2 separate regions of the Homo sapiens genome follow, and region 1 is linked to region 2. The links come from fine-mapping of genetic effects on gene expression. A gene starts in region 2. The other region holds a variant in brackets. All regions are shown on one strand. Distances are from middle to middle.

The links.
Region 1: its variant is fine-mapped to the expression of MYLK2 in gastroesophageal junction (GTEx, PIP above 0.99). The same link has a PIP of 0.9 or more in esophagus muscle, left ventricle, sigmoid colon and transverse colon.

Annotation. Positions count from the first base shown.
Region 1 is chr20:31,743,391-31,758,440 of GRCh38, forward strand. It overlaps TPX2 (TPX2 microtubule nucleation factor), which reads left to right. Exons shown (of 18, transcript NM_012112.5): 3 at 14,017-14,192. The coding sequence starts at 14,087. Among named protein-coding and RNA genes, the nearest start is that of TPX2, 12 kb to the left of the region's middle. The variant C/G (reference allele first, on the strand shown) is at 7,952.
Region 2 is chr20:31,809,788-31,824,321 of GRCh38, forward strand. It overlaps MYLK2 (myosin light chain kinase 2), which reads left to right and starts at 9,569. Exons shown (of 13, transcript NM_033118.4): 1 at 9,569-9,641; 2 at 9,746-9,845; 3 at 10,339-10,759; 4 at 11,652-11,950; 5 at 13,690-13,795; 6 at 14,472-14,534. The coding sequence starts at 9,794. RefSeq lists enhancers at 5,897-6,699, 10,053-10,594, 12,924-12,983, 13,451-13,978, 13,979-14,505 and a silencer at 13,284-13,333.

The DNA of each region.
Region 1 (15,050 bases), 66 kb before region 2:
GAAAAAAAGTCTAGGCTGGGTACAGTGGCTCAGGCCTGTAATCCCACCACTTTGGGAGACTTAAATAGGAGGATTGCTTGAGGCCAGGAGTTCGCGACCAGCCTGGGCAACATAGTGGCACCGTGTCTCTACAAAAAAAATAAAACATAAAAAAATTTAACCGGGCGTGGTGGCACCTACTTGTAGTCCCAGCTACTTGGGGGGCCAAGGTGAAGGGTCACTTAAGCCAAGGAGTTTGAGGTTACGGTGAGCTGAGGGCACCACTGCACTCCAACCTGGGTGGCAGAAAGAGACCCTGTCTCAAAAAAAGTCTGTACATATGCAGTACAGATGCAGTTTTTTTTTTTTTTTTTGAGGCAGAGTTTCGCTCTTGTTGCCCAGGCTGGAGTGCAATGGTGCAATCTCAGCTTACCGTAACCTCCGCCTCCCAGGTTCAGGCGATTCTCCTGTCTCAGCCTCCCGAGTAGCTGGGACTACAGGCATGCCACACCTGGCTAATTTTGTATTTTTAACAGAGATGGGGTTTCTCCATGTTGGTCAGGCTGGTCTCGAACTCCTGACTTCAGGTGATCTGCCCGCCTCTGCCTCCCAAAGTGCTAGGATTACAGGCGTGAGCCACCGTGCCTGGCCTTGCAGTTTTTTTTCCCCCAAATATTTTTGATCTGCAGTTGATTGAATCCACAGATATGGAACTCATAGATACGGACAGCCAACTGTATTTCATTTTTAAAAAAATCATACACTAAAAACTTTTGTTAATTTTTTTAACTTTTTTTTTTTTTTTTTTTTGAGTCGGAGTCTCACTCTGTCGCCCGGGTTGGAGTGCAATGGCGCGATCTCTGGCTCAATGCAACCTCCGCCTCCCAGGTTCAAGCAATTCTCCTGCCTCAGCCTCCCGAGTAGCTGGGATTACAGGCACCCGCAACCACACCCGGCTATTTTTGTGTTTTTAGTAGAGACGGTTTCACCATATTGGCCAGGCTGGTCTCAAACTCCTGACCTCATGATCTGCCCACCTCGGCCTCCCAAAGTGCTGGGATTGAGGCTTGAGCCACCACGCCCGGCCTCTAATTTTTTTAACTTAATAATCAGGCTATGAATATTTTCCCGTGTCATTAATAAATTTTCTTCTCTTTTCTTTTTTGTTTTTTTTGAGACAGGGTCTTGCTCTGTCACCCAGGCTGGAGTGTGCACTTCAGTGGCGTGATCACAGCTCACTGCAGCCTCCATCTCCTGGGCTCAAGTGATCTTCCTGCCTTAGCCTCTCGAGTTGCTGAAACTACAGGTGCATGCCACTGTACCTGGCCAAATTTTTCTACAACATAATTTTAATGGCTATATGGTATTCCATTATTTGGTTCTTTATATTACTTTTACCAGTGAAATTGCTGGTCTAAAAGAATGCGTATTTTTGGCCGGGCGCGGTGGCTCACGCCTGTAATCCCAGCACTCTGAGGAGGCTGAGGCGGGCAGATCACCTGAGGTCAGGAGTTCAAGACCAGCCTGGCTAACATGGTGAAACCCTGTCTCTACTAAAAATACACAAATTAGCCAGGCATGATGACGGGTGCCTGTAATCCCACTTACTCGGGAGGCTGAGGTGGAAGAATCACTTGAACCTGGGAGGTGGAGGTTGCAGTGAGCCGAGATCGCGCCATTGCACTACTGCAGCCTAGGCAACAGCGAGACTCCATCTCAAAAAACAAACAAACAAAACATATTTTTAAAAACTTTTGACATGTAACACCAAATTGCCTTGTAGGAAGATTATGCTGATTTACCTAAAACAGTATATATTCACATAGGCATAAATGTATAACTTAAAATAGGTAATATATTTGCATGGTGCAAAAATCAAAAGAATATAAAAAGCTTCATGGTTTAAAATCTTCCTCCAGCCTTGTTACTTCTTCACTCTCACCATCCATAGGTAAACACTTTTTTTTTTTTTTTTTTGGAGACAGAGTCTCACTCTGTCAACCAGGCTGGAATACAGTGGCACAATCTCAGCTTACTGCAACCTCTGCCTCCCTGGTTCAAGTGATTCTCCTGCCTCAGCCTCCCGAGTAGCTAGGATTACAGGCACGCCACCACACCTGGCTAATTTTTGTATTTTTATTAGAGATGGGGTTTTGCCATATTGGCCAGGCTGGTCTTGAACTCCTGACCTCAGGTGATCCACCTGCCTTGGCCTCCCAGAGTGCTGGGATTACAGGCATGAGCCATCTAATAAACACTTTTATTAGGTTCTTGGGTTTGAGTGTTTGTGTGTTATTCCCCAAACCAGATACCTTTTGAAGGGAATAAATCTCTATAAAATGAAATGACTGCTATTTGACTAGGATTGTAATCTGCAGCCACACTGTCAACCATTACAAACTTTTTCAGCTTCATACTATTGGAATATCAGATTACTTTGGGTTTCTACTAAGATTTCCTTTTAGTATTTTACAAAGCTCTCTGTCATTATCTGTCCTAGTAGTAAACAGCATCATTGATTTCCATCTAGGTCCTATTAGTCATAGGTGGATTATGGTTTGTTGAGTTCTATGGATAAATTATAGCAAAACTGAGTTTGTAATCCTTAAAAAAGGGCAATATGAAACATACAAGTTTGGGAGAGAAATGATAGGAAATATATTTGCTTGAAGTTTCTGGACAGTGATGAATTAGAACAAGTGTCCATGTGTCCTGTGCTGACTTCTGAGTGTTGGACAGTGAGGGATTGTCATTGGATTTTAAATTGACCCAATTTTGGAAGCTTCATAGATCTGTTTCTGTAAACAGATCCAATTTCAACATAGAAGTTAGCAAACATAAATGTGGAAACACAAAGTCCATTAAACTTCCTTCAGACTTAGTTTGTGACTTTGATTAACAGTTAAAATTGCATGCTGGATTATGTTGCCATTTACTGACTGCTGCTAATCCCTTATATACAAGAAAAAAATGTAGGTGTTTTCTCTCTGGGTAAGATGAAAGTAACTCCACTCTATTTTACTTGTGGTAATGTAACAGGATCTCTTATCCCTTGTGAAAGTAGGAGAGGATGTCCCTGGAGAAATGGCACTGCCTGGGATGGGACCATCTTAACTAACTATACTTCTAATGAAGTCTTGTCTTACTCTGTTTATTCTATTATATTACCAGTTTAACTCATGACTTTCTCTTTAATAGAAATAGGCAAGTCATATCTCACTGACTGGATAGCAAGGTGTTTGAGAGCATCTGTCACACCAAAGTCTTTGTTTTGCTCAGGAGCTGGTAGTCCCCTATTTCACCCTGCTTAGAATGCACCCTCTTGCAGCTTTCCCCAACCCGGTCTGAACCTGCACCTTTTGATTTATAGAGCTTGTCAAGACTAGTTATTTTTGGTTTGAGAGTGAAGAAAGATGGGAGGCAATGGGAGGTTAATTTCAGATGAATGTGGGAACAGGTTACATTGCTTTGTCTGCAATCTTCCTAATTTGTATTTGTCTTCCCCTTCCATTTATCTCTTACCCTAGAAAAAGTCAACGTTCATTCTTAGCTTGTAGAACTCCGCAGGTCTGTCTGTATCTTTTAAGTATTTTTTACATCAGGAAACCATCTCTGATCCTCTTTTATGCTGTTCTCCTTCTCTGCACTTCCAGAGCGCTCTCTGTTAATGCCCTCTTGCAGCAAGGATAGCCCTATATTGTAATTGTTTGCATTCCCCCATTCAATTGTGCGTTCTTGGAGGGAAGAGATTTTTTTTTGTTGTTGTTGTTTGAGAAGGAGTCTCGCTCTGTCCCAGGCTGGAGTGCAGCGGTGCAATCTCGGCTCACTGCAGCCTCCACCTCCTGGGTTCAAGCTATTTTCCTGCCTCAGCCTCCCGAGTAGCTGGGATTAAAGGCACGTACCCACCACGCCCGCTAATTTTTGTATTTTTAGTAGAGACGGGTTTCACCATGTTGGCCTGGCTGATCTCGAACTCCTGACTTCGTGATCCGCCTGCCTTGGCCTCCCAAAGTACTGGGATTACAGGCATAAGTCACTGTGCCCGGCCGAGATTTTATATCTCTATCTCTGTCTGTCTGTCTGTCTGTCTGTCTATCTATCTATCTATCTATCGTTTTAGTCTTCGCTTTTTGGAAACAAAAATGGGCTATAAGACACGATGGATGGCATTGAATAGGCAGTTTTTAGAGGAACCTAATTGGTTCATAGCATACAGGATAGGCTTTTTCCTTGGGTCTTTGTAGGAATATTGGTCATTAATAGCTATTTTTCCATGCAGAATATTTCTAGTTTTGCAAGAATCTGAAGCTGTGGTAGATTCAGATAATTTTGAAATGTGAAGCTGATTCTCTTGCTTGGCAACTTGATTTGTTTGGGGGAATGTGGTTGACGCATGTGCCTTTTTTTTTTTTTTTTTTTTGGTGAGACCTGTTGACAGAAATTCAATCTTGATTAAGGGACGCAGGAAGGCATCCAGTTCCCACCATGCCTGGGGCTCTCTCATTTAAACAGCTGCCTTTGGCTCTGGCCTGTTCCATTTCCCACTAGGCCCTGTGGACTTTAATTTTGGAAGATTTCACATCCTCATATTTATTATTTCTGGGGGAGGTAGTGTCGTGAAACCGAAATTACCCAGTAGTTAGCTTTTCGTTTTCTTGATGTACTTGTCCTATCAGCCTTAATTGAAGAGAGTCAGACTTCTCAATGGATATGTATTTATTTATTCTCTTTTTCCAGGGAGAGGGGATGGTCTCCTGAGTTGGCCATTCTAGACCAAAATATAGCTTAAAAGAAGCTTTTTTAAAGAACAGGTCATGTTAGGAAAATAATATTTTGTTTTTAAAATTTCACCTAAAGATTAAGTGTACTTAGGTTTGCACCCCTCGCCGTTTGTTCCCCACTAATCAAATGTAGTCTTAGACCTCAGAGGACAGCCTTTCTTCTGCTGCTTGAACCCTCTTCATAGTCTCTTTACTCTAGAATATCACTGAGGTTTTCACTAACCACCATCTTATATAGAGGAAAAACTTCATATGGAAAAGTATACTTAAAAAAAGAGGAATCAATGGATTTTTTAAAAAATTTATGGGAAGATTCAGATCAGAGCTTTCCAAATATATTTATAACAGGATTTGTAATTTGCTAAAGTTTTCTTTATGAGCATATCAGGGATGCTTAGTTTTCATAAAGGGCAGGATTTGTCTTTGTTGAACAGGATCTTATGATTTGATTACCTACCTCCTTTTTGAAGCAATGTTTATAGGAAAACTTGTGCATTAGAGAGACCCCAGATTTTGGAATCCTGCAGACTTGTTCTTTTAAAACTCAACACTGCTATGTATTAGTTTGGTGATCTTGGAATAGTGTAACTTCTCTGAGCTTGTTTCCTTGTTTATAAAATGGTGATGGTAGCATTTATTTATAAAGACATCTATCTATTGTCTATATTGTTAATGCAGTTTAAACGAGATGATTTATGTGAAGTGTCTGGTAAGGTGCCTGGCCTACAGTAGACAGTATTTGGAAGTTATTATCTCTTGCTCCATGACATTTGTTATTTATCTATTTAAATGTGAATTTTTTTTTTTTTTTTTGAGACAGAGTCTTGCTTTGTTGCCCAGGCTGGAGTGCAGTGGCGCGATCTCGGCTCACTGCAACCTCCGCCTCCTGGGTTCACGCCATTCTCCTGCCTCAGCCTCCCGAGTAGCTGGGACTACAGGCATCCACCACCACGCCTGGCTAATTTTTTTGTATTTTTAGTAGAGACGGGGTTTCACTGTGTTAGCCAGGATGGTCTCAATCTCTTGACCTCATGATCCACCCGCCTCGGCCTCCCAAAGTGCTGGGATTACAGGCGTGAGCCACCGCGCCCAGCTTAAATGTCTATTTTTAAATAAATAGGCAGTGGATAAGAACACCACCTTCGGTGTCTATTCCATTTGGAATCCTGGCTTTACTGCTTCTTAGCTGCATGACTGTGAATAAGTAGTAAATCTCTCTGTGCCTCAAGTCCCTCAGTATAGAATGAAGATAATAACAGTACCTACTTTATAGGATTATTGTGAGGATTTAGTGAGTTAATACATGTAAGACACTGTCAACAGTGTCTGGCATGTCATAAGTGCTCATTAAGTAATAGCTGTTGGCCGGGCACGGTGGCTTACGCTAGTAATCCCAGCAGTTTGGGAGGCTGAGGCGGGTGGATCACTTGAGGTCAGGAGTTCAAGACCAGCCTGGCCAACATGGTGAAACCCCGTCTACTAAAAATACAAAAAATTAGTTGGGCATGGTGGCAGGTGCCTGTAATCCCAGCTACTCAGGAGGCTGAGGCAGGAGAATCACATGAACCCGTGAGCCAGAGGTTGCAGTGAGCCAAGATTGTGCCACTGCATTCCAGCCTGGGCGACAAGAGTGAAACTCTGTCTCAAAAAAAAAGAAAAAAGTTAATAGCTGTTTTTATTTTTAACTTTTTCAAATTTATATACCCTTTTATTAAGTCAATGCCCCAGGAATCATTTTTAGTTCTATATAGAAATCTTATTATTTGTTTATTTTTAATTTTTTAAATTAATTATTATTATATTTTTGAGATGGAGTCTTACTCTGTTGCCAGGCTGGAGTGCAGTGGCACGATCTTGGCTCACTGGAACCTCCTCCTCCCGGGTTCAAGCTATTCTCCTGCCTCTGCCTCCCGAGTAGCTGGGACTACAGGCGCATGCCACGATGCCCAGCTAATTTTGTGTTTTTAGTAGAGACAGGGTTTCACCATGTTGGCCAGGATGGTCTCGATTTCTTTTTTTTTTTTGAGACGGAGTTTCGCTCTTGTTGCCCCGGCTGGAGTGCGATGGTGCGATCTTGGCTCACTGCAACCTCCACCCCCCAGGTTCAAGCAATTCTCCTGCCTCAGTCTCCCAAGTAGCTGGGATTACAGGCATGCACCACCACACCTGGCTAATTTTATATTTTTAGTAGAGACAGGGTTTCTCCATTTTGAGGCTGGTCTCGAACTCCTGACCTCAGGCGATCCGCCCGCCTTGGCCTCCCAAAGTGCTGGGATTACAGGTGTGAGCCACCGTGCCCGGCTATTTATTTATTTATTTATTTATTTATTTATTTATTTATTTATGAGACGGAGTCTCACACTGGAGTGCAGTGGCATGATCTCGGCTCACTGCAACCTCTGCCTCCTGCATTCAAGCGATTCTCCTGCCTCAGCCTCCCGAGTAGCTGGGATTACAGGCATGTGCCACCAAACTCAGCTAATTTTTGTATTTTTAGTAGAAAGATGGGGTTTCACCATGTTGGCCAGGTTGGTAGTTCTATATAGAAATATTAGAAAGAGAATATGTAACATTTGGGTAAGTTAATAGTCAATTTATAGGCCACGTAAATGGGAAGGATTATTTCCTTAAATCAAGAGATTAGACAATCATTGCTTGTCATGAATATTTAATAAAAATTTGAGAAAGCTCAGTTTCTTTTGGGCTGCAAACATAGATCTAGGGAAATAAATACTGCTTAACTATTTTGTTGTTGTTGTTGTTGTTGTCTTTTAAGAGACAGAGTCTCACTCTGTTGCCCACGTTAGAGTGCAGTGGTGCAATCGTGGGTCACTGTGGCCTCAAACTCCTGGACTCAAATGATCCTCCCACCTCAGCCTCCTGATTAGCTGGGACTACAGGCACACACCACCATGCCCAGCTACTTAGGAGGGGTTGAGGAGGGAGGATCCTTTGGGCCCAGGAGTTCGAGTCTAGCCTGAGCAACAGGCTAGATTCTTTAAAAAACAGAGATGAAAAAGAAAGAAAAAAAGGATGTGAAGGGTTAAATTTGAACACTTTCCAGGTAGTTTTCAGCATCATGCTTTGGTGGAATCATGGTTTTGAGGCTAAGTGGGGTTGCTGCATGTTACATTCCTGCCTCTTCCTTCCCCCAGCTTTAGTCGTCTTCATTACATTCATGCCTGGGAAGC[C/G]TTCCCAGTGACCTGAGTTAGGCATTAAGATCATGGGAATCCAAGATTTTCCCATGTCTTCTAGCATATTTGTTCACAAGAAAAGGAAAATTTCCTCCTTGCAGCAAGGGGTTTTTAACCACTGTCAGTACCATGGAATCTTTCACTAAAAATCCTTTGAATAGAAATGTGGTCAAGGAGAGGAAAGGTATCAGCAGTGATAATACCTTACAATAGTGTATTTCATAGCACTTGAAGTAGCTTCTTATTTGATTATGGTAAGAAGGTAGGCAGAGAATTAGTGACTTGCCTATTGTCATATACATGTGGTAAATGCCAGAGAGGGCATTCTGGACTTCTGTTAGTTGGAATTGCTTTTGACTACAGGTGACAGAAAATGTGGCTATAATGGTTTATACAATAATTATTATTATTTTCTGAGATGAAGTCTCACTCTTGTCACCCAGGCTGGAGTGCAATGGCGCAATCTCAGCTCACTGCAACCTTCGCCTCCTGGGTTCAAGTGATTCTCCTGCCTCAGCCTCCCGAGTAGCTGGGATTACAGGCACCTGCCACCACACCTGGCTAATTTTTATATTTTTATTAGAGACAGGGTTTCACCATGTTGGTGAGGCTGGTCTCGAACTCCTGACCTCAGGTGATCCGCCTGCCTTGGCCTTCCAAAGTGTTGGGATTACAGGTGTGAGCTACCGTGCCTGGCCTATTTTTTTTTAGTATAAGAAGTCTTTTTAGCAGGTCATGGAAAATTGTAAAAAACACCAGAAGTCTAGAGGTATATAGTAGCTGATATTTGATCTTTAATAGTCATTAGCTCATTGATGTTAAGCCCTATGTTTATTGTTCTCTTGGCCATCTACTCATGTATACCAGATGACTGCCATAGCTCCAGCTTGCCTTCAAGGCAAGAAGAAGGATAAAGGGAAAGGGCAGGAATAAGGGCTATAGCTGTTTTCAGGAAAGAAAATTTTTTCCTAGGAATCCCTCAGCAGATTCTTACTTAGTTCTCATTGGCCAGAACTGTCCCATGGCTACCCCAAGCTTGGAAAGTGGCTATCAGGAGGTAACTTCCATTTTAATGTACTTGCTACTGTTTTGGTCATGGTCAATGAAAAATATTTAATCGTACCTTGACTTCAGCCATGTTAATTTCTAATTCTCTATACTTAGAGTTCATACTGTATAATTTAAACAAACTGTCTTATTTATTGTGTATGATAGGACCTTAGCGTCTATGTAGATGTTAAGTTCCTTTGTGTTCAGGACTACATCTACTTTTTTTTCTTTTTTTTTGAGACGGAGTCTCGCACTGTTGCCCAGGCTGGATGCGGTGGCGTGATCTCGGCTCACTGCAAGCTCTGCCTCCCGGGTTCACACCATTCTCCTGCCTTAGCCTCCTGAGTAGCTAGGACTATAGGTGACCGCCACCATGCCTGGCTAATTCTTTTTGTATTTTTAGTAGAGACGGGGTTTCACCATGTTAGCCAGGATGGTCTCAATCTCCTCACCCTGTGATCCACCTGTCTCGGCCTCCCAAAGTGCTGAGGTTACAGGTGCGAGCCACTGAGCCTGGCCGCTTAGATCTACTTTTTGTGTGAAGATATAGAGTGTCATCCTTGAATGTTACTGAGAAACATTCAAGGGCACACAGCTTATGGCCCCTAGCAAGTACACACTATTGTGAACCACTGACAAAAAGCTTATTGAGTTAAGCTTAATAATGAAAGTAGAAATGGAGGAGAGAGGAAAATTTAGACTGGGGATACCAAAGAACCCCTATTCCAGACAGAAGACTATGGAGAATGGATTTACTTGGAAATAAATACAGTATTCTTTTCTATGCAAATAGCTTAACTTCATGAACACCCTTCTTTAATTCACAAGGTAAGAGGGCAGAAGGATGTAGAAAGAACATTGTGCTGAAGTCACGAGCCTCAGGTCCAGATCTGGCTCTGTTTTTACGTAACTGTGTGATACTGGGCAAGTCATTTAATCTTTCTGATCTTCAGCTTCTAGGTTGGGAATAATTGCTGCTTTACAGGATTGTTTTGCATATCAGAAAGAATACATATTTAGTATATCATGGCACCTGGCATGTAATGAACACCTCTGGTAACTGTTTTTACCATGATCCTTAGGATTTTTGTTGTGTGATCTTGGAGAACCCCTTTTTGCTTTAAGTTAATATCTTATAGACTGCAAAGGTTAGGTGTTAATCAAAGTTTCCTCCCAATTCTAAAATATCATGTTTCTACACTAAGTACCTCAATTAGAGCATTGTTATAAAGATACTTGTGGAATTCTGGCTGCAGTGAGCATAGGAGAGACCATGGGAAGATGATGTTCTCTGGGGTCTAGATTGATGTCACTGTATAAATGAAATATTTGTTATAACAGATGTTTCTGGCCGGGTGCGGTTGCTCATGCCTGTAATCCCAGCACTTTGGGTGGCCGAGGCAGGCAGATCACCTGAGGTCAGGAGTTCAAGACCAGCCTGGCCAACATGGTGAAACCCCATCTCTACTAAAAATAGAAAAATTAGCCAGGCGTGGTGGCGCACGCTTGTAACCCCAGCTACTTGGGAGGCTGAGGGAAGAGAATCGCTTGAACCCAGGAGGTGGAGGTTGCAGTGAACCAAGATCATGCCACTGCACTCCAGCCTGGGCGACAGAGCAAGACACCATCTCAAACAAAACAAAACAAAAACAACAACAATAACAGATGTTTCTGAGACACTATAAGGACCAGAAGTACATTATTTTTATTTATTTTATTTTTTGAGACAGAGTCTCGCTCTGTCTCCCAGGCTGGAGTGCAGTGGTGCGGTCTTGGCTCACTGCAGCCTCCCGGGTTGAAGTGATTCTCACCGAGTAGCTGGAACTACAGGTGCAGCCACCACCCCAGGCTAATTTTTGTATTTTCAGTAGAGATGGAGTTTCACCATGTTGGCCAGGCTGTTCTCGAATTCCTGACCTCAAGTGATCCTCCCGCCGCGTCCTCCCAAAGTGCTGGGATTACAGGCATGAGCCACCACTCTCAGCCCCTAGTCCATTTTGAATTGCCCTAGTCCACTGAGAGAAGCTGTGAAATGCTGGCCAAACCACTGAACGGCTATGTAGGTTGGGAGTAACTAATCTCATGATTCATCTCAGTGGATAGCTTATGTGGTATAGTTTAGAGAAAATGAGTGCTGCAGTGCCCAGAGTTGGGGAGAGTTTGGGGAACTGGCACACTCCTGGTAATGTAAGTGGGTGTTTTTTTCTTCTGAGGGACATTTTCACAGTATGTGTCAAGAGCTTTTGACCCAGCAGTTCCACCTCTTAAGATTTATCTTAAGGGAAGAATTATGGATGTGTACAGAAATTTAGCTACAAGGATGATGCTTTAGCAGTATCTTTAAAGTGAAAATATTGGAAAAAGGCTGAAAATCAAGGATAAGTAATTATGGAACAGATACAGCCATTAATTGATATGTCTATATTTATTGACATACAAGAATATTCATAATATGTGAAGCAGATTCAAACTGTCAATGATTCATTTAAAAAAATAATAGTTTGTATATATATGAGGGAGAAGACATCTGGAATAGTGTAGCATTATAGGTTTATTTATTTATTTATTTTTGAGCCGGAGTCTCGCTCTTGTCACCCAGGCTGGAGTAGAGTGGCGTGATCTTGGCTCACTGCAACCTCCGCTGCCTGCGTTCAAGGGATTCTTATGCCTCAGCCTCCTGAGTAGCTGGGATTACAGGTGCCCACCACTGCGCCTGGCTAATTTTTTGTATTTTTAGTAGAGACAGGGTTTCACCATTTTAGCCATGATGGTTTTGATCTCCTGACCTCGTGATCCACCCGCCTTGGCCTCCCAAAGTGCTGGGATTACAGGCGTGAGCCACCGTGCCCGGCCGCTTTTTTGTATTTTTAGTAGAGATGGGGTTTCACCATGTTGGCCAGGCTGGTCTCAAACTCCTGACCTCAGGTGATCCATCCGCCCTGGCCTCTCAAAGTGCTGGGATTACAGGCATGAGCCACTGCGCCACACTAGAAAGGTATTAATTTAAATAAACATTTATTCAAGTGATTACTGGCATCTACCTCCCTTCTAAGATACAGATACTTTTAAGTACATGTCGTTCCCTGGATAAAAACAAATGGCTGGCCGGGCGCGGTGGCTCACACTTGGGAGGCCGAGGTGGGTGGATCACTTGAGGTCAGGAGTTTGAGACCAGCCTGGCCAACATGGTGAAATCCCGTCTCTACTGAAAACAAAAAATTAGCAAGGTGTGGCTGTGGGCGCCTGTAATTCCAGCTACTAGAGACTGAGGCAGGAGAATTGCTTGAACCCGGAAGGCAGAGGTTGTGGTGAGCTGGGATCATGCCACTGCACTCCAGCCTGGGGGACAGAGTGAGACTCCGTCTCAAAAAAAAAAAAAAGACAAATGGCTCATTGGGTTTCATTGGCAAATTATTGGCCACTGAGTGTGGCCTTTAGGCTATTTATCAGATTACTTTCAGCTATTTTATTAACTAGATTAGGCTTGAGTAGGAGCTGACTTTAAACCTTCACAGGTTTCCACAAGATAGAGTGCAAAACTTCGTACGCAGGAGTAGGGAGGGGCCTATTTAACTTGTTCCCTTATCCTTGCTTCTGTTCCTATGCTGCATGTTGTGACTCTTACGTGTATTTCAAAGTTGTCGTCTTTATACTCAGAAATAGTATTTTTTGAGAATATTTCTAAGAAAAGACAACTTATATTTGACAAAACTGTGTTGAACTCTTACTATGTATAATGCACTGTGTTAAGCACCTTGATGGTTGGATGGATGGATGGATGGATGAGGTATACACAAGTGAGTAAAATCTATCTTTGTTTTTAGGAACTTCGAGTCTACTGGGAGAGACATTTACATAGTTAATATAAAATTGGATGATAAGTGTTACAGTGGAGATATAAACAAAGCACAATTGGCTTTGGAGAGGCAACAATTTTGTATGATAGGTGGAAATTGGGAAAGAGTTCATAGAGATTTGACCTGGACTTTGAATGATGGATAAGATTTTGGTTGGTAGGCATAAAAATTAGTGGTGTATTTTAGAAATTGGGTTATTCAGGGCAGAGAGAGAATAAATTGGGCTAGAGGAGGCTAGAAATGAGAAAATGGTAAATTGAGGGAAAATAATGACATGGTGAATGTAAAACACCTAGCACAGTGTAGATACTTATCAAACTTTGCCTCTTTTAAAAAACATTTAGAAAATTTATTTATTTATTTTATTTTTATTTATTATTATTTTTTTTGAGACAGAGTTTTGCTCTTCTTGCCCAGGCTGGAATGCAATGGCGCGATCTCGACTCACTGCAACTTTCACCTCCCAGGTTCAAGCGATTCTCCTGCCTCACCCTCCCGAGTAGCTAGAATTACAGGCGCCTGCCACCATGCCCAGCTAATTTTTTGTATTTTTTAAGTACAGAAGAGGTTTTGCCATGTTGGTCGGGCTGATCTTGAACTCCTGACCTCAGGTGATCCACCCGCCTCAGCCTCTCGAAGTGCTGGGATTACAGGCGTGAGCCACTGCTCCTGGCCTAAAATTTATTTTTAATTTCAATTTTTTCTTTTTGGTTTTTCTTTATATTTGCTGATTACTTAAAGATAATTTTTATTTTTTTAGAGATAGGGTCAACTACTTACAGATAATTTTTATCTTTTTAGAGACAGGGTCAACTGTTATACTTAGAGATAATTTTAATTTATTTAGAGACAGGGTCTGTCTATGTTTTGTAGGCTGGACTTGGACTCCTGGTCTCATGTGGTCCTCCCTCCTCCCAAAATGCTGGGATTACAGACGTGAGCCACTGTGTCTGGCCCACTTCTTTCTAATTCCAAACATATCTACCTCAAGGAGTATCTTTAAGTTACCTGAAAAACTAATGTTTAGGTTGATTGGACAAAGTAAGGCTATTTTCAGTAAATTCTAGGTGGTTTGCAAAATTACAAACGTGGTAGTAAAACCAAAGTAATGATGGGAATTTACTTAGATTTATGTGCAACCATTTCTTTCCTCAGAAGGTGACCTGCTGAGAAAAGTGGTACAAATACTGGGAAAAACCTGCTCTTCTGCGTTAAGTGGGAGACAATGTCACAAGTTAAAAGCTCTTATTCCTATGATGCCCCCTCGGATTTCATCAATTTTTCATCCTTGGATGATGAAGGAGATACTCAAAACATAGATTCATGGTTTGGTAAGTGCCTGCTTTCTCTGGCTATTTTAAGGATTAGTGGCTTGCTTTGTGCTGAAGACCTTTCAATAATAGAAGGGGTTGCAAGAAAAGAACTAAAATATCAACTTCTTTCTGCACCAAGACATTCTGTCATCCATGATATTATGGGAATAATTGAAATGCCCAGTATTTGGGGAATGGATTGTAAGTACAAAGCATATGTTGTTTTGTAGTTCAGAATGGCAGATTTAAGCTTTAGGGACCTATGGGAAAGTTCAGATGAACCAGTGTTCAACAAAACTCCATGCTCAAATATGTCTGTAGTGATGGCAGCCACATAAAAACTTTGTCTACTATCATTAGGGATAGATTATATCACAGCTAGGATATTGACATTCATACAATCTACCAGTTTTACTCAGATTTCTCCAGTTTTACTTGTATGTGTATTAAGTTCTCTGTGGTTTTATCACCTGTGTTGGTTTATGTGTCTACCATCACAGTCAAGATCTTTTATAATTACCCTCACCTCCCTCCTGCCACCCCTCCCTCAATTCATTTTTTTTTTTTTTTTTTTTGAGGCTGTAGTCTCGCTCTGTTGCCCAGGCTGGAGTGCAGTGGTACAATCTCAGCTCACTGTAACCTCCGCCACTCTTGTTCAAGCGGTTCTGCCTCAGCCGCCCAAGTAGCTGGGATTACAGGCGCCCACCAGCATGCCTAACTAATTTTTGTATTTTTAGTAGAGACAGTGTTTTGCCATGTTGGCCAGGCTAGTCTTGAACCCCTGACCTCAGGTGATCCACCCACCTCAGCCTCCCAAAGTGCTGGGATTACAGGCGTGAGCCACTGCGCCTGGCCCTCAATTCATTTTTAAATGGA
Region 2 (14,534 bases):
CTATCTTGTTGAGGACTTTCCAAGGGTTGTTCTGGAAACGGAAATCTAGCCCAGATCACTCCAGGGGACTAATCCCTGAATAATTCTGTCCCCTTGACACGCACACATATTTTCTGATGTTTTTCTTGACCTTGGAACTGGTTAAAGACTGCATAGAATGTTCAGTGAATTCTTGCAGACTGCCACAAAGAAGTCCTTCCCATCCAAGATATGATTTCCCCCCCAAGATTGAGATTATTTTGGAAGTAATCCTTCTATTGTTGGAGGCAGTTTAAGGATGTCACCATAAAATGGACTTTACCTTGTTCTTTTTCTGTTTCTCTCCGTTGCGATTCAGTTTTTACGTGTTCATGGACAAGGAGACCTGGGTTATTTTTGGATAACTGGCACAGGGTTCAAGAGAAATACAGAATTATTTCATGGAATAAACCCTAGATTGGGAACTGGGAGAGCTGCTCTCGCTTTGTGACTTTGAACATGTTGTTTATATTCTCTGGGTCTCAGTCTCCTCATAGAAGTTAGAATGATCTTGCTAGAAAGGACCCTTCCTCTAGCACAGTGGAGGGGAATTTCTCTCCCGCCTTACCATGCCCCAAAGGCACTGTGGGCAGCAATGGTGACTGTTACCCACCCAGCTAGCCAGTGTGACTCAGAGTGGCCGTGCTTGAGTCACATATTCAGTGTTGTCAGTGGCTGTGTCACCAAGGATTGCCAGAGGCCTTTGCTATTTTCCCACAGCTAACAACCTGACAGGATAGGGTCAGCAGCTTCTAGTTAACAGCTGGCCAAAAGAAGCAGGGAGACATCTCTGCAGGGGAGGAGGTTCATGGGAGTTTGTTCAAGCAAGAGAGGCTTTTTCTCTCTTGGTAGTTTGTTACTGCAGCAATAGAAAACGAATGGGGGAAGCAACACAGAGCACACAGTCACTCAGGAGCTGGGAGGGGTTGCCAGTGCGCCTCCCCTTCATGAAACCACTTCACTTTTTTTTTTTTTTGAGATAGAGTCTCGCTCTGTCGCCCAGGCTGGAGTGCAGTGGTGTCATCTCGGCTCACTGCACCCTCCATCTCTTGGGTTCAAGCAATTCTCCTGCCTCAGCTTCCCGGGTAGCTGGGATTACAGGTGCCTGCCACCAGGCCCGGCTAATTTTTTTTGTATTTTTAGTAGAGACAGGGTTTCACCATGTCGGCCAGGTTGGTCTCAAGCTCCCAAAGTGCTGGGATTACAGGCGTGAGCCACCGCGCCAGGCCAGAGCTTCACTTTTTGTGCATCTCTCTCTCCTTGGAACATTTGCTGTACTGATGACTGGGTCTCAGTGTTCTGTGTTTCCCCACATACACCACAACGCTACTCTTGTGAGCTACTCAGAGGCCTAAGCATCTTGGCCTGTGGGACTTTTATTCTCTAAGACAGTGGTCCTCAGAGTGTGGTCTGTGGCCCAGCAGCAACAGCATCATCAGGGACTAGAAATGCAAATTCTTTATTCCCACACTAGACCTACTGAGTCAGGCACGCTGAGGGTGGGGCCCAGCAACGTATATTTTAACAAGCACTCCAGGGGACAGTGATGCGTGCCTAAGTGTGAGGACCACTGTGCCAGGAGAGGGACCTGCAAATCCTGACAGACAACAGGTCTCCTAATGCAGGTACCCATGGGCCAAGGAGCCAGCAGCCACTCTCCTGTGACCTTAGTGCCCAGCCAGTCAAGAGCCTGTCTCAGGGTGAGAACATCTTCCTCCCTTCCACAGCCCCTTGAGGGGTCACCTTTGTACAGTCTGACTGAGTTAGACACGGGAGAGCTGCTGAGCTTGTTGAGTGGATGTTTTATCTCCTTAGCCAAGACTCCATTCCCAGAATGAAGACGGAGGGAAGAATGCTTTTCCATATGTTCTTCCAACAAGTCATATGACAGATGAGGAAACCGAGGCTCAGAGTTTAAGTTACTCATCCAAAGTCATGCTGCTAATAAATGGCAGAGTCAGAATTTGGACCCACGTCCATCTGCCCTCCAGTGTCCTTTCTACCGCAGCAACTTGCATCCCTTGACCAGAGCCAGCTCCAGGAGGATAGGGCCTGGCTTTTTCTGGATTTGAGCTGGAGCCCTCACTGAACTCTTGACCTTGCTGTGGGAACCTCCAGCTAAGCTTCTCAGACACTGGGAGGCAGGTCCTCTCCTTGCTTTCACCCTGTCAGCACAGCGGGCATCTCGGACCATGCTGGATCCCGTCAGGGATGTGGCAGCTGCCAGTCAGTTAAGTCACAAGCCTCAGCAGGCCTGAATGATAGCCAAGGTGGTCACCGTGCCAAGTGGATTGCAGCCAGGAGGTGCCTTGCCTAGCCCACCCCTCATCCTTTATTTGGAGGCCCCTCACCATCTCAGGCAGGGTCTTCTTCCCCCAGCAGCTGCTCAGAGCTTGCCATGCACCCCCTGGTTCTTATGGTAGCCCAGTTTAGCAAACGGACCTGAAGTTTTATAAATAGCGCAATGGCAGGCTGGGAAGCTGTCCTGTGTAAGAGGACAGAACATGCATTCTCTGCTCCTCGAGCCATTTCCTGGGATCGGGTGATGGGAGTGACTTCTAGTGCAGATAAAGTCGAATTACTCTTATCTTCTAGGTCTATACTCCACACTTGGTCTTGCTTCTACTGTTTGGTATGTCTGTGGTTTCCCCCTACTGCTTCTGCCTTTATGTGATGGTGCTTCCAAGTCTGCTCCCGGGACGTTTCCTGTTCTTGGAACAGCTGCACCAGCCTGGGGTACCCTCCTGCTACTTGATCCTATAGGGAGGTGTCCAGTGGCTGTGGGCAATTTTCAGATGACCTTGTTCGTCTGACGTCATTAGATCGCTATTTTTGGCTTTGCTGTTTATGCTGCAGAAGTTGGGCTGGAATGGGAGAGGAGGAATGAAGGAGGGGCTGCTCTTGGTTTCCCATTGTTCCAGGGTCCTACCAAGTAGGTGCATTTATTCTTCCACATTTACAGAGCACCTACTGAATGTCAGGCCCTAGGGCAACCAAACTGATTCTTCACTCACTTATGAATTTATTTTTCAATGGGCATTGCTTTGTGGTACGGAGTAGTAATTAAATGTGAGGGCTCTGGAGCAAGAGAGTTTGGATTTAAATTCCAGCCCGCCATTTACTACCTCTGAAACTCCTCTGTGCCTCAGTTTCCTTTTGGAAATGGGAGTGATTATAGTATCTACCTCATAAGGTTGCTCTGAAGATTAAAAGAGTTAATATCTCTGTCTGACACATTGTAAATACACAATGAACGTTAGTGGCTATTACTACTAACCACAACAGCACCACGTATTGTACTAGGTACTTGGGATATGAAATTGAATGTGATGTAGTCTGCATCTGTTTTGCACTGGCATCTGGACTCCAAGGGTCTCAGATATTGGGATGGGGTACCCAGTCAACACCGTCAGAAAGAATACCTGCTGTGTGTACTATTTTTCCTACCTTATGTTGGAGGGCATTCAAGGGAAACAGAAATTGAAGTTTCTGGCTGGGCGCAGTGGCTCACGCCTATAATCCTAGCACTTTGGGATTATAGGGAGGCCAAGGTGGGTGGATTGCTTGAGGTCAGGAGTTTGAGAGCAGCCTGGCCAAAATGGTGAAACCCTGTTTCTACTAAAAATGCAAAAAATTAGCTGAGCATGGTAGTGTACAACTGTAATCCCAGCTACTCAGGAGGCTGAGGCAGAAGAATCACTTGAACCCAGGAGGTGGAGGTTGCAGTGAGCAGAGATTGCACGACTGTACTCCAGCCTGGGTAAAAGAGCAAGACTCCGGCTCAAAAAAAAAAAAAAAAAAAGAAACATACAAAAAAGAAAATGAAGTTCCTGTCCTAGGAAAGCCTTAGATCAGTGGCTCTTCACCCTGCCACACATCAGAATCTTTTGGAGAGATTTTTAAAAATACCAACATTCTGGGCCCCACTCCAAATGTTCTTAATTGGTCTGAGCTGAGGAGGGGCTCAGACTTCAAGAGTTGTAGAAACTCTCCAGGTGTTTTCAGTGTGCATCAGGGTTGAGAAGTGTGGCCCTGGGTTATAGGGATATGAATCCTGGAAGCTCTCCACTGACTGCACCAGGGTGACTGTCAGGACAGTGCCTCAAATCTGTTCCCTCTTCCAAGGCTCTCAGGATGCTTTCTAGAGAGCTGGCTCTCTGACTTGGTGGTTCTTGAACTTGGATGTGCATGAAAAATCACCTGAAATGCTGGTTTATAGACATTTCTGGGGCCTCATTCCAAGGAAGCTCCATTTTATTTTTTATTTTATTTTTATTTTTGAGACTTAGTCTTGCTCTATTGCCCAGGCTGGAGTGCAGTGGCATAAGCTTGGCTCACTGCAACCTCTGCTTCCTGGGTTCAAGTGATTTTCATGCCTCAGCCTCCCGAGTAGCTGGGATTACAGGTGCTCACCACCATGCCCGGCTAATTTTTATATTTTTAGTAGAGATGGTGTTTCATCATGTTGGCCAGGCTGGGCTTGAACTCCTGATCTCAAGTGATCCGCCTGCCTTGTCCTCCGAAAGTGCTGAGATTACAGGCATGAGCCACTTCGCCCAGCCAGGAGGCTTCATTTTAAACCAACTCTGGGGCTTAGTTACTGAGAAAGCCTTGCAGTAGCTGAATTGCGAGTTCTCTGAGGCCCTGAGCCAAGAAGTCCTTTCATGGTGTTTTATAGCTCTTACCATTTTCTCTCTGAAGAAATCTGTGTCCACGTTGATATATTTGGAATTACTTATTGATCTGATTAAGAGTTACAAGTCATTTCCAAAAAAGTTGGAAAATCTAGATGAATAAAGAATAAAAATAATCTCTATTTCTACGCCTGTAAATATGTCCATTTATATCCCTCCAGCCATCTTCTTTGTAAATATTTTGAACAAAAAGGATCCCGCTCTATGGCTGATTTTTATTTAATTTATTTATTGAGACAGGGGCCCACCCTGTCACCCAGGCCATAGTGCAGTGACACAATCATGGCTCACTGCAGCCTCAACCTCCTGGTGTCAAGCAATCCTTCTACCTCAGCCTCCTGAGTAGCTTGGGACCACAGGTGTGCACTGCCACGCCTGGCGAATTTTTAAATTTTTTTGCAGAGATGGGGTCTCACCATGTTGCGCAGGCTGGTCGTGAACTCCTGGGCTCAAGTGATCCTCCAGCCTCGGCCTCTTAACATGCTAGGATTACAGGCATGGTTGATTTTTATAGTCTTTTTTCACCTAAAATGTAATATGCAGTGATTCTATAGCTCTCCCCCAATTTCATCTCTGTGTCCTGAAAGTGACCAGTTTAGTCCTTGTCACAGTAGAGCCCCCAGTAATTAATCTTAGCAATAAAATTCTATAACTGTGGGATGGAACAGTGTGTCAATTGCGTTTTCGGAGAAACCTATGTCCAATTTGCACACAGAACGCCCACAGACCTCTGCTTACTAGCTTGGCTGGAAGGACAGGGTCTGCTGTAAGGACAGCAACCTTACCTAGGGCTTTTCCAGAGGCCTGAGAGGTCCTGCCAAGGCCCTGGGCTCAGGGGTCCAAGGTGGGAGAGGGCGAGAGAAAACAACGTGCTAATGCAGCCTTGAGTGGCTCTCAAACAGGAGCAGAGGGAAGGCTGTGAGGGGAGTTGGCTGCTCTCTTTGGAGTCAGAAAGGTTGTTGCTCAACTCTTTGGATTTTCCATCACAGCTGGGCAGGGAGAGGGTCAGACTGGGCATGACTTCTCCGAACAGGTCCTTTTAAAGCCTCTTGGCTGAACTGATTTCCTCTCCAGAGCCAAGGAAGCAGTGCCTGGGTGAAGTTAACCCCTTCACCCCCAACACATTCTTCCAGAGCTAGGTGAGCCTGGAAGCCTAGGCTCCTGGAAGGCAGAGCTACACAGGGCAAGAGGCCTAAGGAGCCGTGAACTCTGGCTGGAGAAACCTTCCCTCTGGCCTTGTTAAATCCAACAGGCATAATTGCATCCTGCTGACCTTAATTCCCCTGGCGGGTTTAATTGGTCTTGGCATTGCCCCACTTCCTGTCCTGCCCCTGTAGAGGCAAAGAGGGTGTCTGCACAGCTGGTGCAGGGCGGGGAAGCCCCTTCTTGAGGGTGGGCAGGGGCTCTGGCAGCCCCTAGGTGGGTGGAGGAAGTTTCCCCGTGCCCCACCCCTGTGCCTCCAAGGGAGTGCTGAGAAGCTTGGGGACTCCCAGGGAGCAGCTGGCTGGAGCAGGCAGTCCCGTAGATTCGGAACCAGGCCAGACTCTCATCCCAGTGGGAGGCACTGCAGGGGAGCTGGCGGGAACAGATGAACCCTCTACCTGGGGTGTCCACGACATTATCAGGCCCCCACAGTGCTGTAGGTACTGTGCCATTGGGCACTCTTTACATGTGTGCTGGCTAAATGCTCGCAGCCATGCTGTGAGAGGGAGGCAATGGGGCAGAGCAGTTATGAGCAGAGCCTTGGGTTAGATGGGTCCAATCCCAACTCTATGACTTTGCCCTGTGACTCAGTTTTCCTGTCACATCTGTGAAATGGGGATTAAAGAGCTGACATTTATACAGCACTCGCTATGCTCACACTCACTGTTGTAATGCTTTATCTACCTCCTGGGAGGCAGATGCTCTCCTTACGGATGAGGAAACAGGTGAAGACATTGTTCCAAGCTCACAGTTACTGGTCGCAGCGCTTCATTGACAGATCTCCTAATCACTGCATGGTAGGGAGTTGTAAGACTCGAAGGAAGGATACTCATGAAGCTGCTTACCCCAGGGCCTGGTCCATTTTAGAAAGAGTTCAATAAGAGTAATTATTTGGGAATAATAATTATAACAAAAGTAGCACTAATGCCCCTGAAGTTGTCCCAGGCTGGATTTTGGTCTCATTGGGAGGTGGCTCTGGATTTGAATGTGGGTAGTTTGAAGCCATTCACTAGCTGAGTGACTGTGGGGACAAGCCACTTCCCTCTGTGAGCATCAGTTTCCACACCTTTAAAATGGTGTAACATTGGCCCCTACAGTCCCTTCTGAGGATCCAGGGAGCTGGATCTTTGGCATAGTCTGGCCTGGCCGTTGGTGGGCACTCAATAAATGACTGGTATTGATAACCACAATAATAACAAGGAGATGCCAGCAAGGTCCAGCATAGGGAGGTAACAAACTCCAGTCTGGAGCCTTCTGGTTAATCAGTTATTTACTCATCAGACACTGATGGGCAAGTCCACTCTGTGCTGGGGATGTGTTTAGCCCCTGGCCTTCAGGGGGCTCCCAGACAGTGTCAACCAATGGTGGGATCAGCTGGGGCACTGTGGGGAGGCCAGAAGCAGGGGACCCAACATTCCAAATTAAACTAAAACATGCTCTGGGCCAGATAGAGGGCCAGGAGGTCCTAATGATCCGCATTAGGACAGGAAACATTTCAACCTTTTGAATGCTGCAAGATCCACAAAGGGGTTACTCAGCAGGGAGAAGGGGGCAAGGCACAGGCTGGGACATTTTAGGAAGGGAAGAGGGCTTTGGAGTTTGAAGAACGACATTCCAAGCTCAACTCCCTTCCTTGCTGAGTGACTTTGGGCAAGCTACTGATTCCTTTAACTCTCCTCGTCCTCATGCAGAAAATGAGATGAGCGCTCCCCACAGAGTTATCATCAAGATGATGCTTAAAGGCAAGATGGCTAAAACGAATGACAGGTGCTCAGCAAGTGGAAGCTCCCTTTCTGCAGGGGACCTGGGTTCAGAGCTCAGTTCAGCCCCTTCCAAGCTGTGACTTTGAGTAAATTACATAACCTCTCCATGCCTTGGTTTCCCCATCTCTCTAGTACCTACCGCACTGGGTTCTTCTGAAGACCATTTGGGTGGATCAACATGAGAGCATGCAGAGCGAGGCCAGGCACGTGGTCAGTACCGTATAGGCATCAGCTGTTACTTTTGCTTCCTGGAAGAGGCAGACTGTTAACTGGACCTTAAAGAAGAGAAATGGAGGAGAGGAGGACCGGGCCTGGAGAGGAGGGCCAGGCAGAGCAAAAGTAGTCAAGACTGGGGAAAGAGCTCCAACTATGGTTTTTACCAGCTTATACCAAAAACCCTTGACATTTGCTCACAAAACAAAACATCCCACTCATTTTGAATAGTAGCCTGTTCACATAGTTCATGGTTCAAACAGAAAAGTCAAAGTATATACAGTGATGTCTCCTTCCCACCCTTGGGGCCCAGTTCCTTGCTTATCCTACCAAATAAATTCTTATGTGCATAAAGTGAAATATATATTATTCATATATTATTCTCCCTTTTTTTTTTGCACAAATGGATAGCACACTCTACATGCTACTTTGCATCTTGCTTTTTTTATTCCCCCCACTTTGGTGGTCACTTTTTGTCAGTTCATTAACAGCTTCCTCAATCTTTTTTTACAGGTTCCTATTTCCCCACTGCTTAGAGGGGCTGCATTCTCCCTCCTTTCTCTCATCAAGCGTTTTTCCAATGGCTTCCCATTTGACAGAGGAGCCGAGGCCATGGAGTGAAGTGACTGGTTTGCTGCAGTCAGGACCTGAACCTGGATAACCACTCTACAGCTACTTCATTTTATCTTACTTTTTAAAATATAAAGACGGGGTCTTGTTATGTTGCCCAGGCCAGTCTCCAACTCCTGGCCTCGAGTGATCCTCCTGCCTCAGCTTCCCAAAGTGTTGGGATTACAGGTGTGAACCACTGCTTCTGGCCTCTACAGCTACTTCTAATGCACCCAGGTCTGGCCAGTTCTCAAGAGCCCCCTCTGAGAAAGGCTCTGGGTGATGGAAGGCTCCTTGGATCATAGCTGTCCTCATCCTATCTCGAACACCTCAGGCTAGAGTGCCCCTCGGGCCACCCCTGTAGTGGAGCATCCTTGAAAAGACTCTCTGCCAGCCCCCTTCTTCCATGTGGGTCATGGGTGAGAACTGGATGAGCTTGGGGGAGGGGCACAGAGCACTCTCCATCTCCCATGGCTACTCAGGGCAGCCTCCGTGTCCCCAGGAGCCCAAGAAAAGGACAGTTTCAAAAGAAAAAGCTTCCAGGCCTATGGACATGTTGAGAAAGTGCCCCCGAGACAATTTCTTACCCAAAGGTGACGCAAGCAGGTCCAGATGTCGAGGCACAGAGCTAGGCACTAGGGTCAGGGAGATTATCCCTGGGACTTTGTGGCTCTAGCCAGGTTCTGGGGAGCCCCAGGAGATGTGGCACACAGGTGGGCAGACCAGGGCTCAGCCTGGGCATACTCTTGCCCTTCAGGCCTGCCTGAGTACTCCCCTTCTTCCAGGCCCCCTCTGATCCTGTCCAAGTCAGGGATACTGAGCAAGGCCTGGGGAAAGGGCTGCTCCCCCAGCGTCCCAGATACCCCTCCCTTTTCTCGCTTGTTCCAACATCATTCTCCCCCCAGTCGGGCCATGGGAAGAATGCCGTGTCCTCTGAACTGGGGCCAAGAGTGACAGGTGGCGGCAGTCCCAGCTGCATGGCCCCTGGTGTAAGAGATCCTCTCCTCCGTCCCCGCCTCCACTGCCCACACCCCTGCCTCCGCCTCTGCCCACCCGGCCCAATCCCTTACAACTGCCCAGGACTGCTCCTGAGCAGCCGCTGGGAGACAGACGGCAACCAGGTTGCCCCTCTTTGCTCCAGGTACCTCTCTCCCCTCAGTTAGCAGGCCTCGGCTTCCTGTCTCACTGCAGCCAGACGAGAGGGGAAATTGGACAGCCTGACACACTCCACTCTTGTTTCTGCAGCTAGAAAGACTTGAGTTAGACAAGCAGCAGCACACGCCTCCCTACCTCATGGCGACAGAAAATGGAGCAGTTGAGCTGGGAATTCAGAACCCATCAACAGGTGCCAAGCTGGGGCAGGAGATGGAGGGAGGAGCTTGGGAAGGGGGGTTTTGAATCCAGGACTGGGCAGGTTCCTCAGTGGGAGTTCTGTGCCCCAGCCTTGTTTGCATGGTGCACGGGGGACCCAGAAATCAGAGGAATCTCTGGCTAGGGTTGGGCTGGGTCCAGGGCCTGTATGAAGCCCTTCCTGGAGAGACCAGGAAAATGTGAAGCCACCAGGGATGGCTGCTGGGGATGCACCTAAACAGTCAGGGCAAGGATGATGGGGGCCACCAAGGCCCACCCAAAGGGCTGGAAGCCTCCCACAGAGGCCCTCCAAGGTCGTGGCAGCTCATCTCTAGGGGCCATCAAGTGGCCCCAGAGACTCAGTGGGACAAGCATTTGCAAGTTGTTGCCTGGGTGGGAACCTGGGCCCAGAGCTGGTCTCTGCCCAGCCTGGGTGAGAGGGAAGGAAAGGAGGGTGGATCCTGATGGGTGTCTCACCTCCTCTGCAGACAAGGCACCTAAAGGTCCCACAGGTGAAAGACCCCTGGCTGCAGGGAAAGACCCTGGCCCCCCAGACCCAAAGAAAGCTCCGGATCCACCCACCCTGAAGAAAGATGCCAAAGCCCCTGCCTCAGAGAAAGGGGATGGTACCCTGGCCCAACCCTCAACTAGCAGCCAAGGCCCCAAAGGAGAGGGTGACAGGGGCGGGGGGCCCGCGGAGGGCAGTGCTGGGCCCCCGGCAGCCCTGCCCCAGCAGACTGCGACACCTGAGACCAGCGTCAAGAAGCCCAAGGCTGAGCAGGGAGCCTCAGGCAGCCAGGATCCTGGAAAGCCCAGGGTGGGCAAGAAGGCAGCAGAGGGCCAAGCAGCAGCCAGGAGGGGCTCACCTGCCTTTCTGCATAGCCCCAGCTGTCCTGCCATCATCTCCAGGTGAATATCCCCTCCTGGGAGTGGGGAGGGGTCCTGTGGTTCTGTCCCTAGGGGTCCTGCTTAATTCCCTTGTCTTAGGCATGGTTATCATCACATTCAGTGCTGGGGAGTGTAGTTCTGACATTCAGTTTCCTCTGTCCTGTGAATTGCCTCTACCGCCTTGTCCCCTGCAGAAACCAGAACCCTGCCACAATTCATACAAGACTGGAGTAAGAGAGACCCTCAAAGACTGCCTAGGTTGAACATATCTTCTCTAGGCTTCTGGGGTCCGAAGTTCCCCTTACTCCATGGGCTTGGGTCTAGCCAAGGGCAGGGTTGAGATGGCAGGCAGAAAGGCTAAAGGTGTCAGGCAAAAGGCTGTGTATTTCCTAGGACATCCAGTATTTTCCTGTTCTTCTTAATATAATTATTGGTAAGATATGAAAAGATGACTAATAACCAGATTGGAGGATCATTGATAATATTTTCATAACCATAATATAGCACATGTGTGATGCCATCAGTTATACTTACCTGAATGCTAATGAGGTCATTAATGATATATTGTAAGCCACAATAAGAACATTTACCATATCACTTTGATAATTATGTATCAATTATATCACAACAGATTTTATGAATCAAGAGCTACATAACTCCCTAGTTGTATCCACATGATGATTAACCATATCAACAATCCTATTAATAGTTATTAATGATGTATTAGTGTGTTGGTAGTCAAGATAATGACCACAGCCATGAACATCCCTTAATTTTGTACCAGGTGAATTTGGCTGTATTACACCATGCATTTGGGGTGGGGTTGGATTAGCTCTGCAGATTGCATTGAGACTTGCCTGATGCCACAGGCTGTGGCCGCTGAGGGCTTCACCTCTGTGTTCTCACCTTCTAGTTCTGAGAAGCTGCTGGCCAAGAAGCCCCCAAGCGAGGCATCAGAGCTCACCTTTGAAGGGGTGCCCATGACCCACAGCCCCACGGATCCCAGGCCAGCCAAGGCAGAAGAAGGAAAGAACATCCTGGCAGAGAGCCAGAAGGAAGTGGGAGAGAAAACCCCAGGCCAGGCTGGCCAGGCTAAGATGCAAGGGGACACCTCGAGGGGGATTGAGTTCCAGGCTGTTCCCTCAGAGAAATCCGAGGTGGGGCAGGCCCTCTGTCTCACAGCCAGGGAGGAGGACTGCTTCCAGATTTTGGGTAGGCCAGGGGCAGGTGGGGGCTGGGGCTGCCCTGGGGCCAGGGGGAGGGAAGGGGGCTGTCAGTCCCAAGTCTACCTATTCGGAGGTCTGAACTGCCCTGAGCCAAGCCTTACCCAGGCCCATTCATCTAAGGGTCACACAACTCCAGAAAGTATTCCTTTTTTAACGTATGTTTATTCATTTGTTTATTTGTTTTAAAAGATAGGGTCTTGCTACGTTGCCCAGGCTGGCTTCAAACTCCCAGCCTCAAGTGATCCTCCCACCTTGGCCTCCCGAGTAGCTGGGACTACAGGCGTGTACAACCATACCTGGCTTTCTTCAATCTTATTTTTTAAGATGTATTTTTATTTTTAAATTTAGTATTCCCTTTTGATAGATGGGGAAAGGAAGGCTCAGAAAAAGGAAAATGAAGTGCCCAAACATATCCAGTGAAGACAGGATTTGAACCTGTCAGGCCACCCAGACTCCAGAACCCACTTTTGAGTTTTTTCTACTTTGACTAAAATGAAGTTAAAAAAAAGAAAAATCAGGCAGATTATTGGAGCAACACAAACTCCCTGGGCAATGGAATTTGGAGTCAATCTGTAGAAGGGCTCAAATGCCAGGCTTAGTAGCTAAACTGTATAGTGGGGTGGGGTCGTGGGAGCTATAGAGGGCTCATGCGCTGAGGAGCACAGGTGCCTGTGTGTGGGAGCAGTGACCAAGGAAGCTGGGCATGTGCAATGGGGCAGGACTGTGGAGTGGCCTTCATTGATGATTAGACAAGCAGCCCGTGGCTTGTTCATGGGCTGCAGAGAGCACTGAGTGTGAGTGAGCTTGGCCAGCAGGTGAATAGGGAAAGGGCCTGGGCAGGGGTGCGGCAGGGCTGGGGGTGGGGTGAGATGGGGTCAGGAGAACCCAGAGTGTCCTGACACCCCCCTGCCTCCAGGCTGAAGTGCCCTGGGAGACCCGCCAGCCTGCCTGGTGAGCGGCACCGTGCCACCCAGACAGGGTGGGAGGACCTGGCGGCTGGGCGGCAGCCAGGAGCCCTGCCTCCGCCCCTAGCAGCCGCAGAGACCTCCGCCCCGCCCCGAAATCGCATCCTAGAGTGACAGGATCTGAACCACCTCCAAAGGCCGTTTGATTTATCACCAGCCCGGCTTCCCTGCCGCCTCTTGCTATTTATAAAGAGGTTTCCATTCCTGATGACCGCCTGCCGGCCTGCCAGCCTTCAGGGCGAGCGGTTCCCCACACTTGCCGCTAGGTGGCGCCCTCTCCCCACCAAACAGCACGGTCCCCGGTCCCGCCCCGCCATGGGTGGTCTGGCCAGATTGCGGTGTTATTAGGATGGAGGGTGGGCAGGTCCCACCACCTACCCCATTATTCAGACATAGCAACCCCACTGCCTGGCATTCCGCTTTATAGCTGCTGTGTTTGATTGTTTTTGGTGGAAATGCAGATAGCTTGGGATGGAGTCCTTGTGTCTTATAATGCAGAGGGTCCAAAAAGTCCAAGCTCCCATCCCGTTTGTTCTGCCAGGAGAAGCTGGTCCTCCCTGATAGGAGTGTTGTGTTGGTGGCAGAACTGATATTGGAAACTGGGCCCCATAGCCCCTATCCTGGAGCCAGGTGTCCCCCAGGTATCACTTGGTGAACTTAACTTCCCTAGATGGGGCCCAGGCCAGCAGGAGGGGTGGTGCCAAGGGGAATCCTCAGCAGCCCCTGGCACTGACCATGAGGGCTGTGCTCTGTCCCCCAGATGATTGCCCGCCACCTCCGGCCCCCTTCCCTCACCGCATGGTGGAGCTGAGGACCGGGAATGTCAGCAGTGAATTCAGTATGAACTCCAAGGAGGCGCTCGGAGGGTGAGATCTGGGACCCCAGCTGGGCACTCATGGACAGAGAGTACACCGGGCTCCTGTGGCTTCACATTTCCCCTGTGCAAGGCCCAGACACACACCCCGCTGAGACATGGCCACATGGACATGTTCACCTCTGTGTGGGACACACACTGTGTGCAGCTGTCACATGCTGATGTGCACTCAGTGTTGCTGTCACTTACTCAGACGCACCGTCAGCCATTCAGTGCTTCCGTAGGAAATACACAGCATTTTTCTGTCTGTCTCAGCTCCAGGCACCACACTGACCCCCTCATGGTGATTCCTGCTTTGTAAAAAGCCCTGACTCAGTCTTATACCTCTGCAGATCCTCCCTCTGCCTGAAGGTGCCCTCCCCCAGGGCCCAGGGCCTGCCTGCCCTAAACCTCTAAGGGTCGCATCCCAGGGCCATCCTCCCTACACGCCTGCTCTTCCTGTGCACGTGGTCTGTGTGGTTCAAAGAACCTGCTTCAGCCATTGTCCTGGCAGAACAGCTCACAGCTTCAGGAGGGAGTCAGGGCTGGCTGGGGTGAGTGCTCCCATCTCACCAAAGGGGATCCAGAGGCACCACTGGGTCTGGGACCAAGTTAGGATCAGAGCAAAGGATGCCACTGACCCCGGTGGGCTCTGGGGTCCCCTCACTTACAGCCTCTTCTCTTTCCAGTGGCAAGTTTGGGGCAGTCTGTACCTGCATGGAGAAAGCCACAGGCCTCAAGCTGGCAGCCAA